Homo sapiens: one gene and its partners. The protein of the gene in region 1 interacts with the protein of each later gene in a biochemical or structural test. Each region holds a gene or a part of one and is shown in the gene's direction. Other genes may lie near its edges. The genes, in order: PSMD9, PBK, DGKZ, SLCO1C1, DGKK, DOCK4 and RPS14.

The links.
Region 2: the proteins of PSMD9 (region 1) and PBK interact in a test that uses a peptide from one of them, tested with the Homo sapiens proteins (one large-scale study listed by IntAct).
Region 3: the proteins of PSMD9 (region 1) and DGKZ interact in a test that uses a peptide from one of them, tested with the Homo sapiens proteins (one large-scale study listed by IntAct).
Region 4: the proteins of PSMD9 (region 1) and SLCO1C1 interact in a test that uses a peptide from one of them, tested with the Homo sapiens proteins (one large-scale study listed by IntAct).
Region 5: the proteins of PSMD9 (region 1) and DGKK interact in a test that uses a peptide from one of them, tested with the Homo sapiens proteins (one large-scale study listed by IntAct).
Region 6: the proteins of PSMD9 (region 1) and DOCK4 interact in a test that uses a peptide from one of them, tested with the Homo sapiens proteins (one large-scale study listed by IntAct).
Region 7: the proteins of PSMD9 (region 1) and RPS14 form a complex in vitro, tested with the Homo sapiens proteins (one study listed by IntAct).

The regions. Positions count from the first base shown.
Region 1 is NC_000012.12:121,894,859-121,899,080, forward strand, and holds part of PSMD9 (26S proteasome non-ATPase regulatory subunit 9), read left to right. Parts: intron 1-4,222. UniProt on the Homo sapiens protein: Acts as a chaperone during the assembly of the 26S proteasome, specifically of the base subcomplex of the PA700/19S regulatory complex (RC).
Region 2 is NC_000008.11:27,816,967-27,821,188, reverse strand, and holds part of PBK (lymphokine-activated killer T-cell-originated protein kinase), read left to right. Parts: intron 1-494; coding exon 495-624; intron 625-1,528; exon of another isoform or gene 1,529-4,222. UniProt on the Homo sapiens protein: Phosphorylates MAP kinase p38. Seems to be active only in mitosis. May also play a role in the activation of lymphoid cells.
Region 3 is NC_000011.10:46,353,593-46,357,814, forward strand, and holds part of DGKZ (diacylglycerol kinase zeta), read left to right. Parts: intron 1-4,222. UniProt on the Homo sapiens protein: Diacylglycerol kinase that converts diacylglycerol/DAG into phosphatidic acid/phosphatidate/PA and regulates the respective levels of these two bioactive lipids.
Region 4 is NC_000012.12:20,693,353-20,698,362, forward strand, and holds the start of SLCO1C1 (solute carrier organic anion transporter family member 1C1), read left to right. Parts: upstream 1-1,979; 5' UTR 1,980-2,455; intron 2,456-5,010. UniProt on the Homo sapiens protein: Mediates the Na(+)-independent high affinity transport of organic anions such as the thyroid hormones L-thyroxine (T4), L-thyroxine sulfate (T4S), and 3,3',5'-triiodo-L-thyronine (reverse T3, rT3) at the plasma membrane.
Region 5 is NC_000023.11:50,364,757-50,367,937, reverse strand, and holds the end of DGKK (diacylglycerol kinase kappa), read left to right. Parts: 3' UTR 1-2,529; downstream 2,530-3,181. UniProt on the Homo sapiens protein: Diacylglycerol kinase that converts diacylglycerol/DAG into phosphatidic acid/phosphatidate/PA and regulates the respective levels of these two bioactive lipids.
Region 6 is NC_000007.14:111,867,015-111,871,236, reverse strand, and holds part of DOCK4 (dedicator of cytokinesis protein 4), read left to right. Parts: intron 1-1,581; coding exon 1,582-1,663; intron 1,664-3,082; coding exon 3,083-3,253; intron 3,254-4,222. UniProt on the Homo sapiens protein: Functions as a guanine nucleotide exchange factor (GEF) that promotes the exchange of GDP to GTP, converting inactive GDP-bound small GTPases into their active GTP-bound form. Involved in regulation of adherens junction between cells.
Region 7 is NC_000005.10:150,441,557-150,444,581, reverse strand, and holds the end of RPS14 (small ribosomal subunit protein uS11), read left to right. Parts: intron 1-228; coding exon 229-296; 3' UTR 297-1,947; downstream 1,948-3,025. UniProt on the Homo sapiens protein: Component of the small ribosomal subunit. The ribosome is a large ribonucleoprotein complex responsible for the synthesis of proteins in the cell. Part of the small subunit (SSU) processome, first precursor of the small eukaryotic ribosomal subunit.

The DNA.
Region 1 (4,222 bases):
AAGACTTTCCCCACCTTGTGGTGGGAAGGTGTTAAAGGCATACAAATAAAACCAACTATCTGTATTATCTACTGCCTTCTCTTCTGCCTTGATGGGATTGTCTTGTCCCCATCCAAGGACTGAGAACCAAGGGAATGGGCTAGACTCTAAGGTTCTATATTTCTGGTTTCATTTTCTCTCTCTCTCTCTCTCTCTTTTTTTTTTGAGTCAGGGTCTTGCTCTGTCTTCCAGGCTGGAGTGCAGTGGTGCTAACATGACTCACTGCAGTCTCAACCCCCCAGGCTCCAAGTGCTCCTTCTGCCTCAGCCTCCCAAGTAGCTGGGACTATAGGCATGTGTCGCTGTGCCTGGCTAATTTTTTTTAGTAGAGACGAGTCTCACTAAGTGGCCCAGGTGAGTCTTGAACTCCTGGACTCAAGTGGTCCTCCTGCCTTGGCCTTCCAAGGTGCTGATTGTTTTTAATTAAAGAGCTAGCAGAGAGTACAGATTGGATAGTATATTTGTTTTCTGTTTCTGCCATAACAAATGACGTGATTTGTTTTTAATTAAAGAGCTAGCAGAGAGTACAGATTGGATAGTATATTTGTTTCTGTTTCTGCCATAACAAATGACCACAGACTTAGTAGCTGGAGATAAGAAGTCCAGATGGGTCTCACTGGACTAAAATCAAGGTGTTGGCAGGGCTGGCTCCTTCTGGAGGATCTAGGGGAGAACCTGTTCCTGGTCTTTTCTGGTTTCCAAAGGCTGCCCACCGTCCTTGGCTCATGGCTTCGTCCATCTACACAGCCAGCAGTCGCATTTCCCTCCCTCTGATTCTGTCATAACATCTCTTTCTCTCACTCTCCTGCCTCCCTCTTTCACCTATAAAGACCTCTGTGATGACACCAGGCCCACCTGGATAATCCAGGATCATGTCCGAATCTTAAGGTCCTTAATCACATCTGCAGAGCCTCTTTTGCCATGTAAGGTGGCATATTCCCAGCTTCTAGGGGCTAGGATGTGGATGTGTTGGGGGCCATTATCCACTCAGCCATAGGTAGGCAACCGTCTCCACCACAGAGTCCTATTAGCATTTATCCTCCACATTTTTCACTTACTAACTCCTCTTTAATCTGTTTGAATCTTGATTCCATCTGCATCACATCTTATTTATTTATTTATTTTTTGAGACGGAGTCTCGCTCTGTCACCCAGGTTGGAGTGCAGTGGCACGATCTTGGCTCACTGCAACTTCCACCTCCCGAGTGACAGAGCAAGAGACCGTCTCAAAAAAAAAAAAAAAATCTGTTTGAGCAATTCCTTATTGGTCTTTTTTTGAAAAATCTGTTCTCGGCCGGGTGCGGTGGCTCATGCCTGTAATCCCAGCACTTTGGGAAGCCAAGGCGGGCAGATCACCTGAGGTCAGGAGTTTGAGTCTAGCCTGACCAACATGGCAAAATCCTGTCTGTACTAAAAATAGAAAAATTAACTGGATGTGGTGGCACATGCCTGTAATTCCAGCTACTTGGGAGGCTGAGACAGGAGAATCACTTGAACCCAGGAGGCAGAGGTTGCAAAGAGCCGAGATTACACCACTGCACTCCACCCTGGGCGACAGAGCAAACAAAACTCTGTCTCAAAAAAAAGAAAGAAAATCTATTCTCAAAACAGCCCTTTTTAAAGAACAGTTATAGATTTACATAAAAATTGGAAAATAATGGCTGGGTGCGGTGGCTCACGCCTGTAATCCCAGCACACTGGGAGGCCGAGGTGGGCAGATCACCTGAGGTCGGGAGTTCGAGACCAGCCTGACCAACATGGAGAAACCCTGTCTCTACTAAAAATACAAAATTAGCTGGGCATGGTGGCACGAACCTGTAATCCCAGCTACTCAGGAGGTTGAGGCAGGAGAATCACTTGAACCCAGGAGGCGGAGGTTGCCGTGAGCCGAGATTGTGCCATTGCACTCCAGCCTGGGCAACAAGAGTGAAACTCTGTCTCAAAAAAAAAAAAAAAAAGAAAAGAAAAAAAAATTGGAAAATAATGCATAGGTCCTTTGGCTTCTGTATGTAATCTCCCGTGTTGTTAACAGCATATATACACATACATGTGTATATATCTACACATACATGTAAATATATACACACATACATGTGTATGTAAAATATACACATGCGTGTATATATGCAAAATACACATATGAGTGAATGACTCAGGCTGGGTGTAACCAAGATTTCACTTTTCTCTGAAATCCTCTAGAAGGAAAAATGCTGCATAAGCTGGGCACAGAGGCTCATGCCTGTAATCCCAGCACTTTGGGAGGCTGAGGCCTCCCAAATATATACACATGTGTATACACACAGGTTCAAGTGATTCTCCAGCCTTAGCTTCCCAAGTAGCTGGGATTACAGGTGCCCACCATCACACCGGACTAATTTTTTTTTTTTTTTTGAGATGGAATCTTGCTTAGCCACCTAGGCTGGAGTGCAGTGGCATGATCTCGGCTCACTCACTGCACTCACCATCTCCCGGGTTCAAGTGATTCTCCCATCTCAGCCTCCCAAGTAGCTGAGATTACAGGCATCCGCCATCGTGCCCGGCTAATTTTTATATTTTAGTAGAGACAGGGTTTCACCATGTTGGCCAGGCTGGTCTTGAACTCCTGACCTCAGGTGATCCGCCCGCCTCGGCCTCGACAGGCGTGAGCCACCATGCCTGGCCTAATTTTTTAGTAGTATTTTTTTAGTAGAGACGGGATTTCACCATGTTGGCCAGGCTGGTCTCCAACTCCTGACCTCAGGTGATCCGCCCGCCTCGGCCTCGACAGGCGTGAGCCACCATGCCTGGCCTAATTTTTTAGTAGTATTTTTTTAGTAGAGACGGGATTTCACCATGTTGGCCAGGCTGGTCTCGAACTCCTGACCTCAGGTGATCTGCCCGCCTCGGCCTCGCAAAGTGCTGGGATTACAGGCATGAGCCACCGCGCCCAGCTAACAGCTTATGTTAATATGGTACGTTTGTTATAATTGCAAATTTGTTTTTTGAAATACACTGCAGAAACATTTTGTACTGAAAAAAACCCTTTCAACATTTTGATTAGAATTGTAATATGTTGTAAATAGTCGTTCGTTCCATTCCCCAACAGCTGTGTATTGAGCACTTCCCTGTGCCAGGCATTGCAGAGTCTAGGGATGCTGTGGACCTCACTGGGGGAGGGCTTTTCTAGTGAAAGTGACCATGTATTATGTAAGTCTGCCTCCCAAGTGCATGTCTCCACTTGTTCAGATCTGGGTTCTTTTCCCACATCTGCTCCTGTGGGTTGAGAACTTGAATCCCTTCATGACTGAGGGTCTTGCCTTTGCTCCAAAGTGACAGTGGCAGAGGAGGCAGGTCAGGTAGTACCGCAATCCCACTGACAGGCACAAGGTATCAAAATACCAGCTGCTGTGCTGGCGTGGCCTGCAGATTGCCATGGTGGTTCACAACATTTTGAATTAGCTATCTGTACTGAAAAATCAGAGAATTTCACTTCAAAGATCCCAATTTTCAGCTTTTCTGGAAAAATCAAAGATTTTGTAGCATTGGGTCTTCCTCCCAAACCCAGCCAATTGGCAAGAGCCCTGTAGCAGGGGTGCCCTTTGGCCACCTCCCTGTGGACTCCCTCTCCTGGACTGAATGTCTCCAGGATTACTAGGCTTATGCAGCACTTTTTTTTTTTTTTTTTGAGACGAATTCTTGCTTTGTCGCCAGGCTGGAGGGCAGTGGTGCGATCTCGGCTCACTGCAACCTCCACCTCCTGGGTTCAAGTAATTCTCCTGCTTCAGCCTCCCAAGTAGCTGGGATTACAGGCACCCGCCACCACGCCCAGCTAATTTTTGTTTTTGTTTTGTTTTGTTTTGTTTTTGAGACGGAGTCTTGCTCTGTTGCCCAGGCTAGAGTGCAGTGGCGCGATCTCGGCTCACTGCAATCTCCGCCTCCCTGGTTCACGCCAATCTCCTGCCTCAGCCTCCCGAGTAGCTGGGACTACAGGCGCCTGCCATCATGCCCGGCTAATTTTTGTATTTTTAGTAGAGACGGGGTTTCACCGTGTTAGCCAGGATGGTCTCCATCTCCTGACCTCGTGATCCGGCCACCTTGACTTCCCAAAGTTCTGGGATTACAGGCCTGAGCCACCACGCTCGGCCTAATTTTTGTATTTTTTAGTAGAGACGGGGTTTCACCATGTTGGCAAGGTGGTCGCGATCT
Region 2 (4,222 bases), on another chromosome or scaffold:
TCAGTATGGCAGACTGAGATAACATGGGATGTTCCCTTCTCTTGTTTCAAATACTTTGAAATGCTGGGCACAGTGGCTCATACCTGTAATCCCAGCACTTTGGGAGACTGAGGCAGGCGGATCACTTGAAGCCAGGAGTTCGAGACAGACCAGCCTGGTCAACATGGTGAAACCTCGTCTTTACTAAAAATACAAAAATTAGCCAGGTGTGGTGGTGCCCGCCTGTAGTCCCAGCTACTTGGGAGGCTGAGGCAGGAAAATCACTTGAACCCAGGAGGCGGAGGTTGCAGTGAGCCGAGATCGTGCCACTGCATGCCAGCCTGGGCAACAGAGTGAGACTCCGTTTTAAAAAAAAAAAAAAAAATTTTGAAACGCTGGACAAATGTAAACCTAGAGTTTAGGAAGGGAGTTCAAGTTGTTATATTTGGAGGTTATCACATTTTTTTATTAGTTTGTGTTTCTGCACATATGTGTTAAATTTTTTACTATTTTAGTATCTGCACCAAGAAAAGAAACTGCTTCATGGAGACATAAAGTCTTCAAATGTTGTAATTAAAGGCGATTTTGAAACAATTAAAATCTGTGATGTAGGAGTCTCTCTACCACTGGATGAAAATATGACTGGTAAGTTGTACTCTTAAGTTTTAAAATTTTGTTTTTAATACAGTGTTTACATTTTTAAATACGTAAGTCCACATGGATCAAAAATCAAAAACTATTTTTAAAAAGTATATGGTAAAAAGTCCCCTTTTTTTCTCTCTCTCCCAGTCAGCCTGCAGTCTTCTCCCTTGCCACATGTACAGTATAAATTACTGTATTATTATTAGTAGTAGTATTAGTATATATTTTAACTGGAGTTATCTTTGGGAAATATTTCTAACTGGATTGGGATCTTTAAGCAGTAAAGCATCTGGGAATAGAAAGTAAAATTTAGTAAGGTTGTGTAAAGCGGTTTATTTAGCATGAGTAAAGTGACAAGATTTAGGAAACTGGTAGAAGAAACTGGAATGAAGCAGAAAAGAGGGGTGCTAATGAAGGCTGGTCTTTGGCTCTTTGCCCTTTCTTCTCTATTGCATAGCTTCTCAGGGAATTTAAGATATGTTCTTGGTGAGAAACAAGAGCCAGCCTCAAGAGAAAGCCTCTGCTTGCAACATATTATTTAGTAAATAATACTTAAATTTGTCTCTTTATATCAACAGAAGTTAAACAAATGGTTAATAAATGCTGTTTAGAACATATAAATGCCTGAATTTCTAGCTGAAGTAAAAGTTTACAAGTTGAGTTGAAGGCAAGAGTCAGAATGAATGGACAGACTTTATAAATAAATGATGTCTGTAATCATTAATAAAAATAGAACTGTTGTGAAACCTTATGCTAAATAACTTACAAAATGGGAACTTTAGAAAGTAAAAGGATAAATTGTCAAACATAATAAAAATGAGGGTTTTTAAAGTATTTTTCTCAATGCTTAATAGAGCAAACAGACAAATGTAAGGATGTTAAAGATCTGAGTAAATAGTAAGGCAAGTACCTCTGCACCATAATATTTATTAAAATTGACCATATTCTTAGATCACACAAAAAAACTTCGAATTATAAAAAGTATGAATAGTCTAATAGGTGATATTCCTTAACATCAATGCTGTAAATCTAGAAATTTGTAATAAAATAGGAAACAAAAACTCCAAACTTTTTAGGAATTTAAAACACTTCCGAATAATTTTTGGCTAAAAAGAGAAATCAAATTCCATTTATAAAATATTTAGAAAATATAAGAATATAACAAGTCAAACCCTATTTGATATGTTCAAAACTACTCAAAGGAAACATTTTCATTATTTAACTTTTATGAAGTTAAGTTGAATATTCAACTGAAATTGAAAAAAATGACGCCCTAAGAACAGAAAGCAGAAATGAATGAATTTGATAGCCTATAAATTCTACATAATCTTAATGTGATCTATTCTAGAACATGTCAGAATTAATCTGAAGTTCCTCTTTGAGGATACATGTTCAATCAAACATGGCTGGGAAAACTCGATGAAAGGAGGAGGAATCTTCCTGAGCAGATAAAAAGTTTTATAAAGCTACAGTAATTAAAGCGATGATACTCATGCCAAAATAGGCAGAAAAATAGAACATGAGAGTCAGGAAATAGTTCCCAAATAGAGGAATTTGTTGTGTGATAAAGGTGACATTTTTGTATTAGTGAGAAAAGAGGTAGTTTAGTCAGTAAATGATGTTATCTGGACATTTTAGAAAAAAACACAGCTGTTTTCTATCCTTACACTTGAATCCCCATATATTGAAGATTGGGGGAAAAAGTAACAGTAGAAAAAATTGTAGATAAATAGTTCTTTAATGTTGGCTGTGGAGAGGACTTTAAAGAAGACACCAAAGCTAGAAACCATCATTAAAAAGCCATGGGTACCTCCATTTAAAAAAAAAGAATTCTATATCACAGTGGGTTGGAGAGGGGCAGGGAGCTTAAGACATTAGAAACTGAGATAAATGTATAAGATATTTAATATTTCTAATGCATTAAGAGTTATTAGTAATCAATGAGAAACAGATAAAAGCTCTATTATGAAGAGACTGTTGAGAAATGAAAAAAATGGCAATTAGGAAAATATATATGTAATGTTCTTACTAATGTTTTAAAAGCTAAATAACAATGAGATAATCTGCTATCAACACTCATCACACTGTGTAAATTATCTGTTAAACGTTTCTCCATTCCTCCATTAGGCTTGTAAGCTCTAAGAAGGGAACCTTGTATATCTTGTCCACTGAAATATCCTCAACTCTAGAATAGTGCCTGACTTGTAAATATATTATTGAAGGAGTAACAAGATTGCTAGTAAATAAAAAGATTGCTAGTATGAGCAACAATGTAGGTTAACATGTCCTCTCATACACTAAGTAGAACTTGTAACTGCTGTTTTACTGAGGTTAGAATAGGTTTTGCTGTGGTAACACAGACCTCAAAAACTTCAGTGACTTACAACAACCAAGGCTTATTACTCAAGCTGCATGGCCATTAGCACCTTGTTCTGTGTCATTCTCCCTTTAGGACTTATACTGATGGAACAGCCACTATATGGAACATGGCCACCATTATGGGGAGGGTGAAAAAGCATTGGAGTGGTACTGTCCAATACAGTAGTTATGAGCTGCATGTTGCTATTTACATTAATATTAAAACATTGAAATTATTTTCTCAGCCACCCTAGCCACAATTCAAGTGCTCAGAAGCTACATGTGGTTAATGGTTACCACATTGGACAATGCAGATTTAGGAGATTTAATCATCATAGAAAGTTTCATTGAACAATACTGCTCTAGAAAGTCTTGCAGTGATAGTTAAATGCTCAAGCTCAGAAATGACACAAGTCATTTCTTGTGGTAGAACCTTTCAGGTGACAGTTTGGAAAGCTGTATTTAAAATAAGAAAAACCTTTAAAAATGTTTATGCCCTTTGACCCTATAGTTTCATTCTTAAGAACACAGTCCAAAGAAGTAATTGAGTAATTAGGCAGTACAGGCATTTTTTTTATAATAACCTGATATATTATTTCCTGCAAAACTTCATTGCGCAAAAGTTTCAAGATATAACTAGGTTTATAGAAAAAAAAAACAGGGTTAAAACCTATGCAACTTTGAAAACTAAAGCAGTAACAAAAACAGTTAATAATCCTAATAAAAGATACTAACACATTAAATCTGCAAGGGCATAAACATTTTAAAATATTTTTCTTATTTTAAATGCAGATTTCCAAACTGTCGTCTGAAAGGTTCTACCAGAAGAAATGACTTGTGTCATTTCTGAGCCGGAGCAAGACTTTCTAGAGCAGTGCTGTTCAGTGAAACTTTCTATGATGATAAAATGTTCCTTTGTAGCCATAAACCCTGGGTTTATGCTGAAGGTTACATATGAGAGTATTTTCAATAGATACTTTTCATCAAGATGAAAAATTTGATCTGGCTTTCTCACTAAAAATATATATATATTTTTAAGCGTGTGGGAAATGTGTTGGCAGCTCCTTTACCTGGACTCACTCACAGCTTTTGTAGTTAGCAATAGCAATTCTTAAAGCTACTACACCAGGCATATGCTCAGGGAAGGCATTTCTGTAGGCAAAGGCTTTCTATTTGTGAGATTTGCCTCTGATCACTTCAAAAATAACATTTATGTACTGGGAAAAATATCAATCTTTTTACT
Region 3 (4,222 bases), on another chromosome or scaffold:
TAAGGGCGCAGGGAGTCTAAAGCCCAATGGACATGCTCAGAGGAGCCCCCATACCACCCAGGGGTCGGTGGCTGGTCTGGGGCAGGGAAGATCGCTTCACTCGTACCCAGTGCCTCATGGTGAGAGGTCTGAGAGGAGAGGGAGGGCCCCAGCATCCTCCTCATCTACACTGAGACCTCCTCCCCTTGCTCCTGGCAGAGCATCAGTTCAGAGCTCCCACGTAGAGGCCTCTCCCCTGCCAGGGATGAGCCCATCTCAGCACATGCCAAAATAGCTGTCTGGGAGCCTGGGCCCGCACCGCCCACACCCCAGCATCTCGCGGGTTAACAGCTTGCCTGTCTCTCCGCCCCCTTCCCCAGCTTGCTGACATTTTACAGAGAGAGGCGGGGGCGGTTGTGAAAGGGGGCAAGCTGGTTCTTGCTCCCCAACCCACACGGACACCCCACTGACACAGCCTGCCACCACCCACCCACCTCTGGAAGGCATCCCCTTGGGGGAGACCTTCCTTCCATCCTGAGGGCCCTGAAAGGGTGAGGGACAGGCTGCCAAAACCATCCCTGGTAGACCCAGGGAGCTCTAGGGGGCTGGTCTCCCTCAAGGGGTCTTTTGTAGGACACAGGATCTCCCTCTGTCACCCAGGCTGGAGTGCAGTGGCACAATCATAGCTCACTGTAATTTCAAACCCCTAGGCTCAAGCAATCCTTCCACCTCAGCCTCCCGAGTAGCTAGGACTATAGGTGGGGGCCCCCATACCGGGCTCATTTTTTCTTTCTTTCTTTCTTTTGTAGAGACGAGGTCCTGCTATGTTGCCCAGGTTGGTCTCGAACTCCTGGCCTTAAGTGATCCTCCCACCTTGGCCTCCTGAGTTGCTGAGATTACAGGCCTGAGCCACTGTGCCCAGCCTCTGGAGTCTTTTTAAGAAATGATTTTGAAATCTTTCTAAACACATTAAATATCTTGGCGTTAGAAAAGTGTGCAGAATAAGGTGACACCTACTGCCTAGCTTGGTTGGAGCTTAGCATTAGGCCATATTTGCTTTAGATAGAGATGGAGGCCCCTGTGTCTTACTCCCTGGAGGAAACCACAATTCTGATTTTGGTGTGTGTGATGTTCTTGTGCCTGTTTTTAAAATTGTCCTACATAGGTATTCATGCCTAGCAACATACAGTGCTGTTTCGTATGATTTTACTCTGGTTTAAATGGTATACCAGGCATATTCTGCATTTAGGTTTTTCCCTCAATATTGTTTTGGAGATTTAACCATCCTAAACATGAATTCTCACGGATCCATTTTAACCTCCACGTCCGATTCCATTGTGTAACAGCAGCTTATTTGCCCAGGCTCTGTTGACGGACACTTGGGTGGTGTGCAGTTTTTCGCTATTGCAAGCGATCCCTCTGTGTTCTCTCCACCAGTGCTTGCTCACAGGGTCTGTGTATTTTCAGCTTAGACAGATGTTGCCAAATTGTGCTCCGAAGTAGTTGTCCTAATTTTTAGGCCTCTGTGTTTATTTTTTTATTTTATTTTATTTTTTTGAGACAGAGTCTCACTCTCGCCCAGGCTAGAGTGCAGTGGTGCGATCTCGGCTCACTGCCAGCTCTGCCTCCCGGGTTCAGGCCATTCTCCTGCCTCAGCCTCCCAAGTAGCTGGGACTACAGGCGCCCGCCACCACGCCCGGCTAATTTTTTGTATTTTTAGTAGAGACGGGGTTTCGCCATGTTAGCCAGGATGGTCTCGATCTCCCGACCTCGTGATCCGCCCGCCTCAGCCTCCCAAAGTGCTGGGATTACAGGCATGAGCCACCGCGCCCGGCTATTTTCTTTCTTAAAACTTTCAGTAAACTGGGGAATTGTTTCCCAGGAACAAACACTTTCTCCTTCAAGCCTGCAACACTCCCTTGAGAGAGACGAGGGTGGGCATTAGCCCTATTTATCAGATCAGGAAACTGAGGCTGAGGCAGGTTAAAAGGCTTAGCTTGAGGTCATGTAGCTGGTCAGAGGCAGATCCTCTGGGCCTTTGAAGCTAAACCTACTGTGAAGGCCTTTGTCCCCTGTGTGAGTAGTGTGGAAGCCTGGAGAGTGGGGTGGGGCCCTGGGGGCTGATGGGGGAGGGAGCAACATGGTCAGAAAGTTGAGGGGGGAGGTGTTAAATTTTTTTTTTTTCTTTTTTTGAGATGGAGTTTTGCTCTTGTTGCCCAGGTTGGAGCGCAATGGCGCGGTCTCGGCTCACCGCAACCCCTGCCTCTGAGGTTCAAGCGATTCACCTGCCTCAGCCTCCCAAGTAGCTGGGATTACAGGCATGGGCCACCACACCCGGCTAATTTTGTATTTTTAGTAGAGATGGAGTTTCTCCATGTTGGTCAAGCTGGTCTCGAGCTCCTGACCTCAGGTGATCTGCCCGCCTCAGCCTCCCAAAGTGCTGGGATTACAGGCATGAGCCACCCGCCCGGCCAGGGTGTTAATATTGAATGAGGGGTGAGGGGGAAATGCTTCTCCCAGCAGATGGGGAATGGGAGCCCTCTGCAGACACAGGAGAAGACAAGGATGGGACGGTCACCAGAGAAGAGTGGGGGCCCGCGAGGGGTTTATAACAAAGGGGCCCCTTTGGGAGGCTAAGGGAGATATATTGGCATTCCCATCAGGGATCGGTTTCAGTGTTGCCTCTGAGACACCAGAGCTCAGCCCAGACCAGACTTGTCCACCCAGTGCAGCAGGAAGTTCTCGGGAGCTGGCCCACTCCTGGGGCTCTGTGCCCACCTGAAGCCTGTGCTGTCAGCGGGATCCATGAGGCTGAGTCCAGACCATGCGCTGTTCCCTCCACTCACTCTTCAAACCACACCCAGCACTTCTACACTCTGGGGATGCCATTAGAAGCAATGTGAGGCCCTGGGGCTCACAGCCTGTCCGGGGATGCAGATTTGCACATTAGTGCTGATTGCCCAGGGTCTGAGAGGAAAACCATGAGGGAGAATTCACTGAGTAGAGAGGGGAGTGGTATTCCAGGTAGGGAGACCACCGGATGCCACGTGGTGCCACGTGGAAAAGGGACCCGCGGTGTTTTGTTTGCCAGAAGCATCCAGGGTGGAGCCTGAGGGGTCGAGGGTATGTGCCATGGAACACACTACTGAGTTCAAACCCCAGCACTGCCACATGTTAGCTGGACGACTTCAGGCAAATGACTTAACCGCTTTGTCTCTCAGTTTCCTCATCTGCAATATGAGGATACGGGCCATGGGGATAAGAATACCAACTATTCTTAGGAGGATTCGTAGCTTAATATTTGTAAAAACACTTAGAGTAGTGTCTGGTGGAGTGAGTTATGTAAGTGTCAAATACAGCATTAAAAATATGAAAGAGCAGAGAGGAGGCTGGGAGGCCTGTTGCCTGCCAGCCCCAGGTCTTTGCATTTTGCTCAGCTGACAGTAGAGTCAGTAAAAGGTGATTGGGTGCTTTAGGATGAATTCTGATGGCAGCGGGAGTCTGGCTTGGAGGGAGGCACTAAAGGAATGGGTTGGTCATTTGTTGCGCAAACATCTCTTTGAGGCCTAGCAGGGGCTGAGTCAGGGACTCGGATGTGAAAGAAGAGACTGGGGGTATTTCACCAAGGAGCTCAGGCCAGCTTAGGATCCCCGCCTAGCCCCCAAGCCTCTGAGACAGCCCCTCCTCCCCTTTCCTTGCCCACCACCCTCCCCTTGTGACTTCATGTCACCAAACCGACTATCTAGTTTTCATGAGAAAGCCATGGAGAACATGGAGCGGGCGATAGCATCCAGCCCAGAAAGGGGCCTCCAGGTGTCACTCTTGGGGTCCTCTAGAGAGGAGAGGAAGGTGGCCACCCAAACCAAGGCTGTTGCCATCCCCTTGTACCCAACAAAGAGAAGTGGCCTGAGCCAGCTGGAGCCTGTGGTCAGCCGTTGCATGTGGTTACACAAGGTGGAAGAAGCCTTTCTCCTCCCTTAAGGTGCTGGCCCCTCCCCTGTGGAATTCCCTGTTCTTTCCTCCTGCACTGATCAGCAGTAAATGCTGGACTCACTGCCAGGCACCATGCCGGGCATGCCCAGATGCGCTAGACCTGGCCCCGGCCCCCCAGGAGCTCGCGGTCTGGTGGAGGAGCAGGCATGTGGGCTGAAAGAAGCAGGCCTCCCAGGGCTCTAGTGGCAGGGGAGCCAAATGGGCAGTGCGGAGCTGTGAGTAGGAGGGGTGTTCCGTTGGCTGTGAGCAG
Region 4 (5,010 bases), about 100 Mb from region 1:
AGAAAGAAAGTGGATTTATCTGAGGTGAGCTTTGCCTGGGAAGATCAATAAATTGAAAGAGAAACAGGAGAATTGAGGGTATACAGAAGGAAGTGATTAAAATAATTGCATGAAAAAATTCAAGTAAGGAGGAAAATGAAAATATGAGTGTACTGGCTTGAATTGTGTCTCCCAAAAAGATATGAGGAAGTCCTAACCCCCGGTACCTGTGAATGTCACCTTTCCTGAAAAGAGAGTCTTAGCAGACCTTATCAAGTTAAGATGAGGTCATGAGGGTGGTCCCCAGCCAAAGATGACTAGCGTTTTTTTAAGTACAGAGGACAGAGACATAAAGGGAGAAGATGGCCATGTGGTAACAGAAGCAGCTGTTGGAGTGATACACCTATAAAACAAGGAGTTCAGGCTGTCAGCAAACACCAGGAGGTGGAAGAGGTAAGGAGGATTCTTCCCTACAGGTCTCAGAGGGAGCATGGCTCTGCTGACACCTTGATTTTTGACTTCTGGCCTCCAAAAGTGTGAGACAATAAAGTTCTGTTTTAGGTCACTCAGCTTGTAGTACTTTGTTAGTGCAGTCTTAGGAAATGCATTCATTTATATGTTGTCTGTGGTTAATTTACCACCAGAATGGCAGAGGTGAGTGGTTGTGATAGAGATTGCATGGTCCTACAAAACCTAAAATATTTCTTATTTGTCCCTTTATAGAAGTTTGTTAACTCCCTCATCTAGAGTTTGGAAATGGGAATGAAAGGCTGAAGTAGGCTACAATCCAATGCAAGGTTGCACATAAGAAGCTCTGAATAAGTGTAAACATTATGTGCATTCAAAACAGTAACATTAACTGTGGACTCTGGAAATAAGAAAAGGAATCGTGTTGGAGAGTGAGACTGAGCCAGTTGGGAATAGACAAAATTACATTCTCAAGGGAGAATTTCATTTCTTGGTGAGGAAAATTATGCCCTTTGGGCTGGTAAATACTGTCTCCTCTTGAATAAAACAGTGGTCTGGCCACCTGTTAGACACTGAGAAGTCTAGACTAACACTCAATGTATTCGGATGTTTGCTCACTATTTCCGATGGAAAAGTCTGGTTTGATTGTTAAAGTAAAATATTTGGCCTTTCAGAGTGTGAAAACACCATTGCTTCATTGCAAGGTTTAATATAAACCCATTTTTCTTGCATTTTCTTTTCTTTCTTTTGTAGTAAAATGTGCTTGAATAATATTAACTATTCTGACCATTATGTGAACTAAATATATATATATATAAAATGATGATACCTTCCGCTCATTTGCAATGTGCTTTTGAATACATTATATAATTTAATCCTTAAAACAGCCCTATAAATCTGTTTTTTTTTTTTTTAAACAAAAAAATTCTGCTTTACAAAGGAAGAAGTTGAGACTCAGTAAAATTAAGTGACCATCCCAGAGTCTCAGCCACTTAAGAGTAGGGTGAATCTTGGATAATTCTGGTAGCAAATTTATTTATTGGTAGAAAATAAATGCAAACTACTACTGCTTAAGATCCTCTAAAGTTTTTCTCTTGGAAAAAGAATGTATTAGAATTGTGGACTTTCTCAGTGCAAGGATTTATTTATCCTTGGAATTAGGCAGAATAAACAATTGAATGCCAAAAATTCAACGTGTTTCTTTTCTGTTTTCAAAACTCATAGAAATTGTAAATATGAGCAACTGATCATGTCTCTGAGAATTAACTCTTTTTGTACAGAGCGCTGCAGAGCTTTGATTGTGACCTGATACTTGGTCCTTAAAGATTCTAGAACACCAATGGAAAAGAAAACCATGTAGCAAATTAGCCCAAGAACCGTTAAAGACAAAACAAAACAAACCAAAACCAAAACACACAAACAAAGAAAACACAAGGATCCCAGTGATGTCCCTAAGGAATAGTTGGCTTAAAAACTTTCTGGAAGGAGGAGGGGTCTCTGTTATAAACTTCCGCCCTCCTCTGGCTTCTGTTCCTTACCCTCTGCCCCCTGCGGAGTTGTGTTTTCTGGGAATCAGCAAGTAAGATCACAAGTGGTCTTTTCTTTTATTCACTCTCTCCCATAAAGAAAGCTTTATCACGTGTGGCCTTAAACTTGCAGCAAATTGCAAAGAAATGGCTCAAAAGCTTCAGCTCTTTCTGTGCCCTGGGAGCTGAGATGCACGTCAGTGGCCTTGCCAGCGTGGCCAATTCTCTGCTGACTGCCAGAAAAAAGAGGCCAGGAAGAAAGAGGAAAGAGAAGAGATCGCTCAGGGGTGAGACCATGCCCTTCATCTTTTCTTTTCCCTAATCTCCTCTGCTTGTGTCCACCCACACTCTCCCCACCTGGCAAAATTGTTCAAAATTGCTGTGGAGTTTACCTCAGTTTCCTCTTTCAGTCTGTGGTGTGTGGTCCATCCTCTTGCTGAGCACATTGAAAGGAACTGGCTATCTTTGATCTCTTCCTCCAGGTAAGACTTGGTTCTCTCATTTTATATTTTGTGACTAATACATCAGATTCTTATGGGAGATTAACCCTTAATTTCTGTGCGATTTATGTTTTATCCATAAAAATATCAGTGAAAGGTGATGATCCCCTCATTAGTTTGATGGAAATAAGAGAGAAGATTGGTTAAAGAAATCAGATAAACTCAAATTTGAGTTCAAATTTTGAGTCTCATGCTTATAAATTGTTTAGCTTTTGACAAGTCACTTAATTGCTTTGGGCCATCTAATTTAAAAAATGGAATTCTAATATTACGTTTGTTGGGTTGTTTTAAGGATTAGAAAAAGTACGTACATTACTCAACACAAAAATAGTACTTATTAAATCTGAATCTGACACAGATAATTTGTATTAGGTGAGAAATTAGTTTCTAAACAACACACACTCCTCTGCAGCAAGTGCCGTGAGGCTATTTTTTAGTTTGTCTGAAGGGAGGCATCCTGGTGTCCAGAAGTCAAGCCAGGACAGAGGTTTTCCTCACAGGAGATGGCCAAGAGAAGAGAGGGAGGAGCGTGGTTGCCTTTAGGACTTTCTCTGTGGCAGTCCTTGGGGACTGATTGCTGGACAGAGTCCGAGTCAGTTGCAGAGCAGAGGGGTTGAGTACATCTGCGGGATCTAACTACAACCTTCCTAAGCCACTTGCTCTCTCCATTTAAAATCTGGAGGGCTGATTTTGAAACTAATGAGGACTGATTATTCAATGTTTTTGAACCAAAGGAAGAGAAACTGCTTGGCTTGTTTTTCTTTGGCCTCCAGAATAAGTTATGCTCCAAACCCAGGGTATTGGATGAAAACTGTCGTATGTCTTTTCCTGGAAGAATCTATTCAAGTGGCCAGAGATCAATTAAGGATTTGCCAAATGCAAATAATTCTGAATAACTGTGTACTCTTGCTCTACTTCTGCAGTTGCAAATGAAGAGAGAGAGCCTGCAGGCCCCAAGGATCTTTCCGTTCATGTCATTGAGCTTCCTTCCCTCTCTTTTTACAGGGGATGAACTGTAGCCTCCTTGGAACATACTACACTTGCAATAATTTGCGCATTAACCATCAAGACACTTCAGTAAAGCTATGCAGTGCCAATAGTTTAAGCTGGATCCTATTTTGCCCTAACACAAAGTGAACTGAGATGACTATATTTATATTTCATTATACTTTTGAATTTTAGTTACAGTGATTTTTGTGTCAACACCTCCATATATTAGATAACTTAAAATGTGCTATAGTATCTCAAGTTTTTCAGTAGTGTTTTTAACATAATTATTTTTTCTCTTTGACATTAGCATTCTAGATGTAACACTTTGGATCTTTTAAAGATAAATTTAGGATAAATGATAGCAGATTTTATTATTAAACAATTTATTTGTATTTTCTGGTCACTGACTTTAATATTATGACTGATGAGAAATAATATGATATCTGAATCCCCAAAAACAGAAGGCCAATTTGAATTATATAATTTAATCCTTTGAAGAATATTGCAATTTAAGCCAGAAATTTAATAATTATCCGTTTCTTATTTTAAAACCTTTCTGGTTTGTATATCTCTTGCTTGGCAATATTTTTACTCATAGTTTTGTAGTAAAGATACCTATTTAACATTGTATAACTCTGCATTTCCCAAACCCTGTTTTCCTTGTCCTGGCAAAATACTGTTCTAGAAAAGTAGTCCTAGTGACTCAGTAGATATAGGAAGTTGGCTGTTGGTATCAGATACTGTTAAGGAAGAATCTCTATATTCTTCATTTCTTAAACTTTGTTTTTTAAATCAGTAATAGATGTCGAATTTTATCAACTGATGTTTTTCATGTAATGAAATTCTATTTTTTATTTTGAATTATTCATGTGGTAATTTAGGTGAATAAATTTCCTGTAATTAACCAATTGTTGCATCTTTTAGAATAATTCTAATCATAGAGCAAGAGTTAATTTGGATTTGCTAGCATTTACTTAGAATTTTTATAATCTATGGGCTTGATCTGAAGTTTTCCTTTCTGTGCTATCTTTGTGCTGTTTTGTTACCAAGATAATGTTATTTTTGTCAAACTAATGGAGACAATGATTATCTGTTTCCATTATCGGCTATCTTTCCTCAAAGAATATCCCTTGATAAAGCACTTCTGGTGCATCATCTATCCTTAGTATCTTTGTTTAGGGAATAGTTTCAGAGTATTTTTGATAATGTCTTTCTTGGCTATTTTCTCTTCTGGTTTTTATCAATATAGGTAATGAATATTTGCTAGAAACTTATCCATTAAGTCAAGATATTAAACTTACTTCAACATTCGATGCATCTTTTTATGTTTTATACTCCTAAATATCTGTGTTTTATCTCATTAATATTATGTATTTATATCTTTGTTTTTTGTCTTGATTAACATTATTAGCTCTTTGTTTTGCTTATTTTTTGTTTTTAAATTTTTCTCTTTCACTCACTCTTCTTTTTCAATTAAAAAATTAAAGTTATGAATGCTTATAAAATGAATCCAAAAGCCTAATAATAATTTTTTTGAAACCAGACCC
Region 5 (3,181 bases), on another chromosome or scaffold:
CTGCCCTATTTCTTGGTGGAGCTTCTAAATCTTTTGGTGCATTTTCAGCGTCTTAGAGGTGGCTGGGATCTATGGCCCAGCTGATTCTGACGCCCCCTTAAAATTCTGAGCCAGGCCATGGAAAGGGGAACAAAAACACCAATGCCCTAAAGAAGGGGTTTAAGCTGGCATGCTGCCTTTTTTTGCTCTATCTGTCCTAGACTCTTCATCAGCAACTGTGCCCTTCCCCAATAAAAAGACTATATGGAGCAACCAGGCCTTGAGCTCTGTGACTTAGATGCCTGAACTAGGGACTGCCTGACAATTAAGTCACAGCCTAGGCCCTTCCCCACAAGCTCCATCTTGGCCTGATCTTCTGGACAGGCTGTTGGGTCAGTCCTCAAGTCACCTTCAAATCTCCCATCTTGCCCTTTTCCCTTGAGTACAGAGGGGCATTGAAGTGATCAGAAAAAACATGGGCCTGGAGAAATGAAGGCTAGAAGCCTGTGCTTTCCTGTGGTTCTTCTTGCAAATTTCTCATGAAAACAAACTATTCCTAAATCGCTCCAAATACTAATTCACATTTTTCAAAAATGCCTTCTCCCAGTCAGGGCAAATCTAATCAAACCCCAATGCCCAGAGAGGTTCTCTCTGGTCAGCCTTGCATCTTCACCCCACCCTTGACTCATACCTTTAGTTAACTGTCCCTTCCCACTTATCAAGAGAAAACTGGCCTCTCCCTACTTCTCAGACAAACTTAGCGTGCTCAATTACCTGATTCAGTCCAATGGCTGGTTCATTGAGGTGCACAATTCAGATTCCAAGCACTGGTTCTCAACTCTGGAACTCCACCAGCCTAACCCACTTAAACCAGCCACCTGTGCTCCACCTCCGCAGGGGTGAGGAGAAAAATATTAACAAGGGGATAGTCCCCAAATGTCTGATTGCTGTGCCAAACTAAGTCCTAGCTCTACAACTAGAGAAGAAAGTCAATGGAAAAAGATGACAGAAAACATTTAAAACTTATTTAAGCATCAGAATGTGTTAGCTTGTTGTACATATTTGAGTAGTGAGTGTGCTGTTGTTGTGTCTTTGACTTTCTCTGTTATTAGTCTTTCTTCCCAGGAGGAGGTATTAGATGAAATCAGCAAGCTCACTATTGCAGCCTGACTTGGCTCCTCTATGGCTGCATGCATTGACACCTGCACACACACTCACAGAGTGGGAACCAAGTTGCATTTTCTTCAGAAGAGCTTTTTCCGAAGGGGAAAATGTCCAAATGAGCAAATTTAGGACTACAGAAGGAAGTCCTGGGAGAAGATAGCTTTATCTTGGCAGTGACTAAGCAGGGCTGTGTCTTATAATTATTTTTATCACTGATGATAGTAAACTGTAATAAGACTCCATCTCTTGTGCTTACTTTGCTGCAATAATTAGGTCTTTGTGCACAGTGATGCTGCTGTTGCTCTGTTGTGCCATGTGGATTCCCTTTCACCTACCCTGTCCTCCCACTCTGAGTCAGAATGATATTGACTGAAACCACTAGTATTTGGGGCTAGAGTCAGCTCATGGAGCACAGTTGATAGATGACAAGGCCCAGGAGCAGGTGTGGCTTGCTCAATCCCTCAGTTACCTCCTAAATTGCTAAGTTACCAGTAGTTTCCCAAAAAGGAAGATAGCTTGCCAAGCACCTGTTCTTGCATATGCTCACTTGGAAACAAAGCAAGAAGTGATGCCTCAAGGGAGTTGTCTTAGCTCTGGGAGTGTGAGCTCCTTTAAGGACTTTGTTAACCACTTGCAGTAATTAATACAATTGCTTGGGTGGTGGGACCAAACACCAAATATCCATCTCAATTATGTTCAGACATCATTAAGACCCAAAGCTCTAGGGTTTGGTTGTATCTTTGGTAGCACTTTCTGACGAATTGGTTGGGTAGGCAATTCCTGGCCAGAAGAATAGTGGAGAAGAAAAAGCCGATACATTTGAACTGCCACCAACTGCTTCTGGTGTCAATACTATAGGAGGTAAACAGTTATGGGTCCCCTTCTCCAGAAAGGCCCTGTGCTGTGTCCATAAGAGCAGGTTAAGAATAAGAAAGAGATTTTTTACCTTAATAAAACTGGGCCAGAAGAAACAGTCAGGGTCAACGTCATCTTCCCTCAGGACACAAATGGAAGAATTTTTCTTTCACGAGAGGTGGAAAATAATACCAAAGCAACCAAACCCATTAGCACCATTCCATCCTATATGAGACCTTGCTTGGCTATATGATTTGTGGAATTGCATTTGTCTATTTGTCAGTGAATCTGTAACCCATTGTTGTTTTCTGCTCTGTGTTTTTTATTTCCTCAGAGGCCCCTGCAAATAAGCAGCAGGGCCAGGGGCTGGTTGGGGGAGGAAGCTGGGGTATTTACATGGTAACAGGAAAAAGCAGAAAAAAAAGATCCACAAAGTGTGCCTATTCCTCTCCCCCCGCCAAATGGAACACCAGTCCTCAATGTTAATAAAGTATTGCTTCTTTAAATATTTTAATAAATGGATAAACATAATCAATGCCGTGCCTCATCATTTACCTCAGCATAAAGGGAGTTGAATGGTGGTGGAAATGGGGGGCAGGTGGGCTTGGGTGGCCATCCAAGCTCTAAACAAGCCACATGCAGGTCACGATGGCAGGTGAGGGAGGACAGCAACAGCGCAAACCAAGAATCTCCATCAGGGATGATCATGATACTAAAGGGGTTGCCAAGAAGAACTCTAAAACCTAGCTGCGACTCTGGATGATCCTGTGGGGAAATACATGCCACTGTAATTGCTCCAGGAGCTAATTCTCTGCAGGATACAAATCTCAGTGGAATGCATTAGTTACTGGGGAGGCAAAGTGGGATAGAGTGTAGTCCAGACTGTTAAATAAATGCATAAGGCACCTTGAAATCTGACAATACAATCTATTCCCCCCAATGCATACATCATACACTCCTCTCCTCTCCAGAGGGGTTTGAGGTGGGAAGCCATATTCTGTTCAAATGCAAAATCAGTTCGGCTGAGCATTCAATACAGTTTAATTTCTGTCACACTAATAGTGACCCCAGGGGAGCCAGTTCTTAGTCGTGTTTAATAGGTAGGGAACTGAGGCTATACTAGGCCAGGATTCCACAACATGCTACACCAGAGTGAGAACTTGAGTCTTCTAAATCCTTGATT
Region 6 (4,222 bases), on another chromosome or scaffold:
GTTCTCCCATATTTCTACCTTATACCTTAAGCACCTGTGGGCATGCACATGCCTGACTGTTCCCTGAGGTGAGTTTAAAAAGCATGAAATCAGGTTGATATCCTTCCCCCATCTATGTAATATATAAAGGTTAATAGGTTATCAGATAAGCATTTGATCCTGTTTACTTGGATATTCCCAGCCATGACAGGTTAAGATCGACGTCTCCAACATCGAAATGAATGAAGGTATTTTTGTTAGACTTGACACTTCATCAGTGTGATTTTTTGCTGAGAGTGAAATGCAACCGCAGGAATAGTTTTGAAACATCGGCCCACTCAGCCTAACAATTTGGGCCCTAGTGTGAGGAGGTTACTGCTTCCAAGTTAAATTGTCTTTGGAAGCTAGAAAACAAGAGTATAATTTCTCACACTTCCGGTTGGCCAGGAAAGCAGGATCTTAAAAAGACAAATAAGGCTTGTGGAATCCTCTTAGGCTGGGGGTGATCAGAAACTCACTAGCATGTTATCTTAAAAAATAGCACTCCACCAACATCTACCTACTGGCACATCCAAGTATTCTCCCCTGACCCAGAGAAACATTGCTGGGTAAACTGTTTCCTAGAAACCAAGAACTGGCTGGGCACAGTGGCTCATGCCTGTAATCCCAGCACTTTGGGAGGCCAAGGTGGACAGATCATTTGAGGTCAGGAGTTCAAGACCAGCCTGACCAACATGGTGAAACCGGGCCTCTACTAAAAATACAAAAATTAGCTGGGCGTGGTGGTGCATACTTGAATCCCAGCTGCTTGGGAGGCTGAGGCAGAAGAATCTGCTTGAACCCAGGAGGGCGGCAGAGGTTGCGGTGAGCCAAGCCACTGCACACCAGCCTGGGTGACAAAGCAAGACTCTGTCTCAAAAAAAAAAAAAAAAAAGAAAAGAAAAAGAAAAAAGAGAAACCAAGAACTGACCAAAGTTCAAGGTGTAAGACTGTCATCTTGAGAGTTGTGGGCTGTTGTTTTTACATTTTTTCAAAACAGGAAAAAAAATTACCTTGGCCTTTCTAGAAATTCTCCTAAGGCACATATTGACATAAGCCAGGTTCTTCTCATGGGTCAGAAAATTGGCTTGATAAATCCATAAGGTGTGCATAGCAGTGGGGAGGCATTGTCTCCATCCCTCCTTCCCACCCCGTTTTGCCTGCAGCCTAATGATATTGCATCCAGCTGTTTACGTGGTCACTGGGAAAGAAATCCCAATGAGCAGTTTTACAGTATTGACCATGGCACTCACACTGCCAGGCACTTGGTTGGGCACAGTCCTTTTCTCCAATATTTGTGTTCACCCATTTGGAGGCATTACCAGAAACAGCAGGGCTATGGAATATGTCCAGATTGAGTGTTGTTTCTCCCTTAAGCTTTGAAAAGGGTGGCAGTGTTGATCTGCAGATTTAGTAAAATTATTATACAGCAGATTGACAGGAAAATGTGAGAACTGATGGGAAAAGAAACCTCCTCATGATATAGTTAAGAGTTGGATTTGTTGGCATTTAATTGAGAATTAGACCAATTTTACATTCTGCACATTTTCCCCTGTATTTTAGAGATCTCATCAAAGTGCTCAAATGGTACGTGGACCGGATCACAGAAGCAGAGCGGCAAGAGCATATCCAGGAGGTGCTGAAGGTGATAACATGCTGTTGATAACAGCAGAGTCTAACAAAGCTGTTGCATGCTGATGCTTAAACTAATTGGTTCCTCTACACAGACAGTAATGGGTGATGATGTATTACTGACATTCCAATTCAAGGATCTTAATCAGTTTGTGACTGCTTGAGAGCTGATGAAATTTGAAGGGGACTTTGCCAGGGTAGTCTACTGGAAACTGTTCAGGATTGAATCCTTGTTCCTCTGGGCTGGAGAGTACTTGAAGTGAAGTCTAAGATGAGCAGGAGAGAGGGAGGGTTTATGAGAGAAGTCTATATGGGGCAGTTAAGCTTAGAAGTTCCTGGCTCTTGCTTCCACCAACCTGACAGAGACCATCGGAGAACCATTTATGTTAAATTTTAAGAGCAAATAGGGTGGCTTAGCGGGGATTATAATGAGGAAACCTGAGGCTTTACCGGGTCTTGTGGCTTAACGCTGCCCACATCGCTGGGCACCATATGCTCAGTTGTCTGTGGAGATACTAATCCCTTACTTGCAAACATGTTGAAAAAGAGTACAAATTCTTAAAGGAATTGTCCAGTAACAGCCCTGGTAGTCTTCTGATTCCTGTTGTTGAGGACCATCCTATTTGGTGTCAGTAGCTTTAAGTAGACAATGTATACATTTTATAAAATAGCATTTTGTGAATTATTCATTTGTAATTTGGGCTGATTGAAGGTAAAATGCTAAGTGGCAAGAGTACTACCTGTCAAAACAAAATTATTTTTTAAAAAACAGTTATCTTTTTGTTGACTAAATTTAAAAAACATCTGAGGGTCAAAAACACTTAGTGTTCATCATACTCCAGAATGATAAAATTTTTTTTTTTTTAATTTTTTTTTTAGACGGAATTTTGCTCTTGTTGGCCAGGCTGGAGGGCAATGGTGCATTCTCTGCTCACTGCAACCTCCGCCTGCCAGGTTCAAGCAATTCTCCTGCCTCAGCCTCCCAAGTAGCTGGGATTACAGGCATGGGCCACCATGCCTGGCCAGTTTTGTATTTTTGGTAGAGATGTGGTTTCTCCATGTTGGTCAGGCTGGTCTCGAGCTCCTGACTTCAGGTGATCCACCCGCCTCGGCCTCCCAAAGTGCTGGGATTACAGGCGTGAGCCACCGTGCCCGGCTAAAGTGTTTTTAAATTTTCTATTAAAATTCTATTTCTTTTAAATTTCTTTTAAATTTAAAGTGTTTTTAAATTTTTTTTCTCTCATTAGGCATCAGAGAAAAGTGGCTGTTCCCCCTTAAAGTAAATACTGTTCAAAAAAGCCTCACAAGGCCTTGGTGTCTACATGAATAATGTAAAAGTTTAATGCCATACCATGGTTTTTATGCCGTGTCATTGCTAAATAAATACTCTTTGTCTCCTTTGAAGCTAACTTTTAAAAATTGTATTTTTAAGGCACAAGAATACATTTTTAAGTATATAGTTCAATCTCGAAGGCTGTTTTCCCTTGCCACTGGTGGGCAAAACGAAGAGGAGTTCCGCTGCTGCATTCAGGAGCTTCTCATGTCAGTCCGTTTCTTTCTTTCGCAAGAGAGCAAAGGGTCTGGAGCATTATCTCAGTCACAGGTAATTTCTTTTCATCTATGCTGAATAGAAGAAAACGATAAGTGCAGTTTATTTATTTTTACACAGCAGCGTAATCAAATGTTTTCTCCATCAGAAGTCAATTGCTCCAGTTTATATTTGTAGCTTAACCAACTTTATGAGTAGACTTTTAAAATTCCCCTACCTTCTGTGTACCAGCTGAGCAGAAGTGGGTTGCCTTTCCCTTCTCTCTCTGCATGGAGAGGCTATTGGTTTGCATCAGCTTCATTTCCGGTTACCAGAACACATACTGACGACTGGACATGCTGTCACCACCAGCCCTGGGGAAGGAATTTCACTAGGGCCAATCTCTTGCAGTTCTTTTCCCCAAGCTTCTCACTGCATTTTAATCTGTCAACTTGAGAATCATTATATTGGACTCAGCTAAGCTGCATGTTGTTTTGTTTTATTGAACTTGACCCTAATCATCCTGGGACTGATCTTTTAAGACCAGTGCAGAGCTGCTGCTGCCGCCAAACTCCATTACCGGAAGTAGCCCCACATGTTTTTTTTAAGAACAGGATCCATCTACTTCCCAAATAGCATGGCCTTGAATATGTTCCATGAGGTAATTCTGAATATTTTCCCTATACTTTCTTGATTCTTCTTGTATACTTTTAATTCTAATGACTTGGTTAAAAACCTGTCAGAAGGAGAAGCAGCCTCTTACCATGCCCTAGAGGTTAGAGAAACTTGTAATCATTGAGAACTGGGACATAAAAAGGGAGATTAGGAGACAAAATTAGATCCTTAACAGTATTGTTATGATTTGGTACTATGTGATGTTCAGAAAGCAAAACACCGGGAATGCACCAGCCCTCTGATAATGTGCTGTATTTTTTCTGACTGTTGAGAGGTCTATTCTTGTTCCTCTCTTCTTTATAGAGGTGGACTCATCTTCCATCTGGGCAAGGATATAACTCAGGCTCTTTTAAATGTCATTTTGGCCTT
Region 7 (3,025 bases), on another chromosome or scaffold:
ACAGCTCAGCCTGTTTCCCTTTCTGGAAAGTGAGTTAAGACCACGTCAGGAAATTCGAGGAACTGGCAGATGGGGCCACTTCATGTTCACATCCATCTGTTAGGTACTGGGGAGTCATTTGGGGAGCAGCAGGATCTGTTGCTGATTGGTTAGGCCATTGGTCTAGGGAGTCCTGGGGGCCCTTCCCATCCAGCTCCAGGCAATGACGCTTTCTCTTCCTCCCCACAGAGGATGTCACCCCCATCCCCTCTGACAGCACTCGCAGGAAGGGGGGTCGCCGTGGTCGCCGTCTGTGAACAAGATTCCTCAAAATATTTTCTGTTAATAAATTGCCTTCATGTAAACTGTTTCAACTCCAGCCTTCTCTCCTTCATCAGGGGCTACTCAGGCATTTGATTTCTTCCTCCTATTTGGCTTCTTGGGAGAAAGGAGCCTGAGGAGAGCTGAGATCCTGGTGCTGCATTTGGGGTCTTTTCCATGCTACTTGCGGCATTAAGTTGCCTTGGTCATCTAAAGCAGACCAAGGCGTTGGAGACCTCGTTTTGAGTGGAGATGCTGGTTCTAAATATGGACCAATTCTTAAAGAGCCAGAGTGGGAACTGTTGATCCAAGTGTAGCCTGAAGCGAAAGAGGAGCCTTCCAGACCCATGCCATATATAAACACACGTGGGTGTGCATTCTCCCCCCACACCTTCTGTGCAAAGCTGGGAGCTCACTCCACTGCGTCTTGCTTTTTTTCACTTGGCAGATCTTGGAGATTGTTCCACATCAGTACATAAAGTACATAAAGATTGTCACCCCACAAATACACACCAAGTCCTATTTTCATCAGCGATAAAAAAGAAAAGTTCTTGCTTTCCGGAAGCTTGCATGCGGCTCTGAGTACCCAGTGACACCAGATGGTACTCAGCGTTTTGCAAGGGATTACCACAAGGCCCCGTGATGGTGCCTGCCATGGTTAGGACAGGCTGGTGGCTGGGTAGGGTTAGTGAGACCCAGTGGAGAGGATGCTGTGTGTCACAGGCTGGAGAGGTGAGACCATTGAGGTAGTCAGTTGTAGAGGAAAGAAACCAGCAAGAGGGGAAAATCTGTTGGGATGCTGCTTTTAGCCTTTGATGGCGTGTTCCAGGCAGAGGGAATAAGCAAATAAATGGGTCCTGAGACAAGGGGTTACTGTGATGAGGCGGCGTTGGTTACATGCCAAACCTTGCTAGGGATTTTAATAACAACATTGAATCTTAACCTGATGAAATAACAGTACTCCTGGGGAGGCGGGAGGGATAGCATTAGGAGATATACCTAATGCTAAATGACGAGTTAATGGGTGCAGCACACCAACATGGCACATGTATACATATGTAACAAACCTGCACGTTGTGCACATGTACCCTAAAACTTAAAGTATAATAAAAAAAAAAAGCTTGCAAAAAAAATATAACAGTACTCCTTAAATTGTTAAAAGTCATGAAAGTCAAGGACAGGAGATTAAGGAGGCGTGAAAACTAAATGCCCATTGTGGTATCCTGGATTGGATTCTGGAACCAGAATAGGGTATTAGTATAAAAACTAGTGAAATAGGATAAAGGCAGGGCACAGTGGTTCACGCCTATAATCCCAACACTTTGGGAAGCCGAGACAGGAGGACGGATTGAGCCCAGGAGTTTGAGACCAGCCTGGGCAACACAGGGAGACCCCGTCTCTACAAAAAATAAAAAATTAGCTGGGCATGGTGGCACACGTCTGTACTGCCAGCTACTTGGGAGGCTGAGGTGGGAGAATTGCCTGAGCCTGGGAAGTGGAGGCCGCAGTGAGCTGTGATTGCATCACTACATTCAGCCTGGGTCACAGAGCAAGATCCTATCTCAAAAACTAAATAAGTAAATAATAAATTAAAAAATATGAATAAAGTCTGGAGTTAAAGTCTGGAATAAAGCTAGTAGTAATGTACCAGTGGTTTCCTACTTTTGGCAAATGTATCATGGCGATGTAAGATGGTAACAGGTGAAACCGGGTGAGTGGCACACAGAAACTGTATCTTTGCAACTTTTTGGTAAACTTAAAATTATTCCAAAGTCAAATTATTAGGGAAAAAAAATGAGGGGTGCTTTTATACTGTCAGTCTGGCAGTCTAAGGCAGGATGTGGTGCACAGACCCTCAGGAGGCAGACACACCTGGAGGAAAATCCTATTCCACAGCTTCAGACCGTTCAACCTTAGGCAAAGTACTTAACCTCTCAGCCGTTTAGTGGAAACTCCTGTGATGATGGCTGCCTCAAATGGAATCACACAAGATCAAAGTGTTTAGCGCAGTGCCTGGCACTGAAGAAGCTGCTGCTATTCTTACACTGGTGCAGGTCTTGTGCCAAGCAGCATAAAGGACAGCTGGCTGGAATCGTGGTAGAAAAATGCTGCCAGTCGCCGGAGCATTCTTTTTATTTCCTGTGGTGAGACTGTAACTTGTCCTGCTCTTTCCTGGTAACCAGGGATGCAATCAGCCGGGTCTTTGAAAGCAGTTCCTTTCGGGGGTTTTGCCTGAAAGGAGAGCCAAGTTGTGGTGTGGCTCAGGTGGGAACGTAGCAGCCTATTGACCGCAGAGGCGGCTGGGCTGCTGCCCACCTGAGACTGCAGCCTGCAGCAGAGGCGCCTGAAGCTGCGACTGCAGCCCCAACCAGACCTCTAGAGACAGTCGCTGCCCCTCTCCCCTGCTCCCCTTCTGGCCGCCTTCCCATGCCAAGGTTTCCTTCCTAGCGTTTCCCAGTCTTCCCTCTGGCCTCTGCCTATCTCTAGACCACATTGCAACATGCCATCTAAAACTAACTGGATTCTGTCACTCCCTGCTGTTTTCTTTGAGACGGAGTTTCGCTCTGTCACCCAGGGTGGAGTGCAATGGCATGATCTCAGGCTCACTGCAATCTCTGCCTCCTGGGTTGGAGAGATTCTCCTGCCTCAGCCTCCCAAGTGGCTGGGATTACAGGTGCCCGCCACCATGCCTGGCTCATTTTTGTAGAGTTTCACCATATTGGCC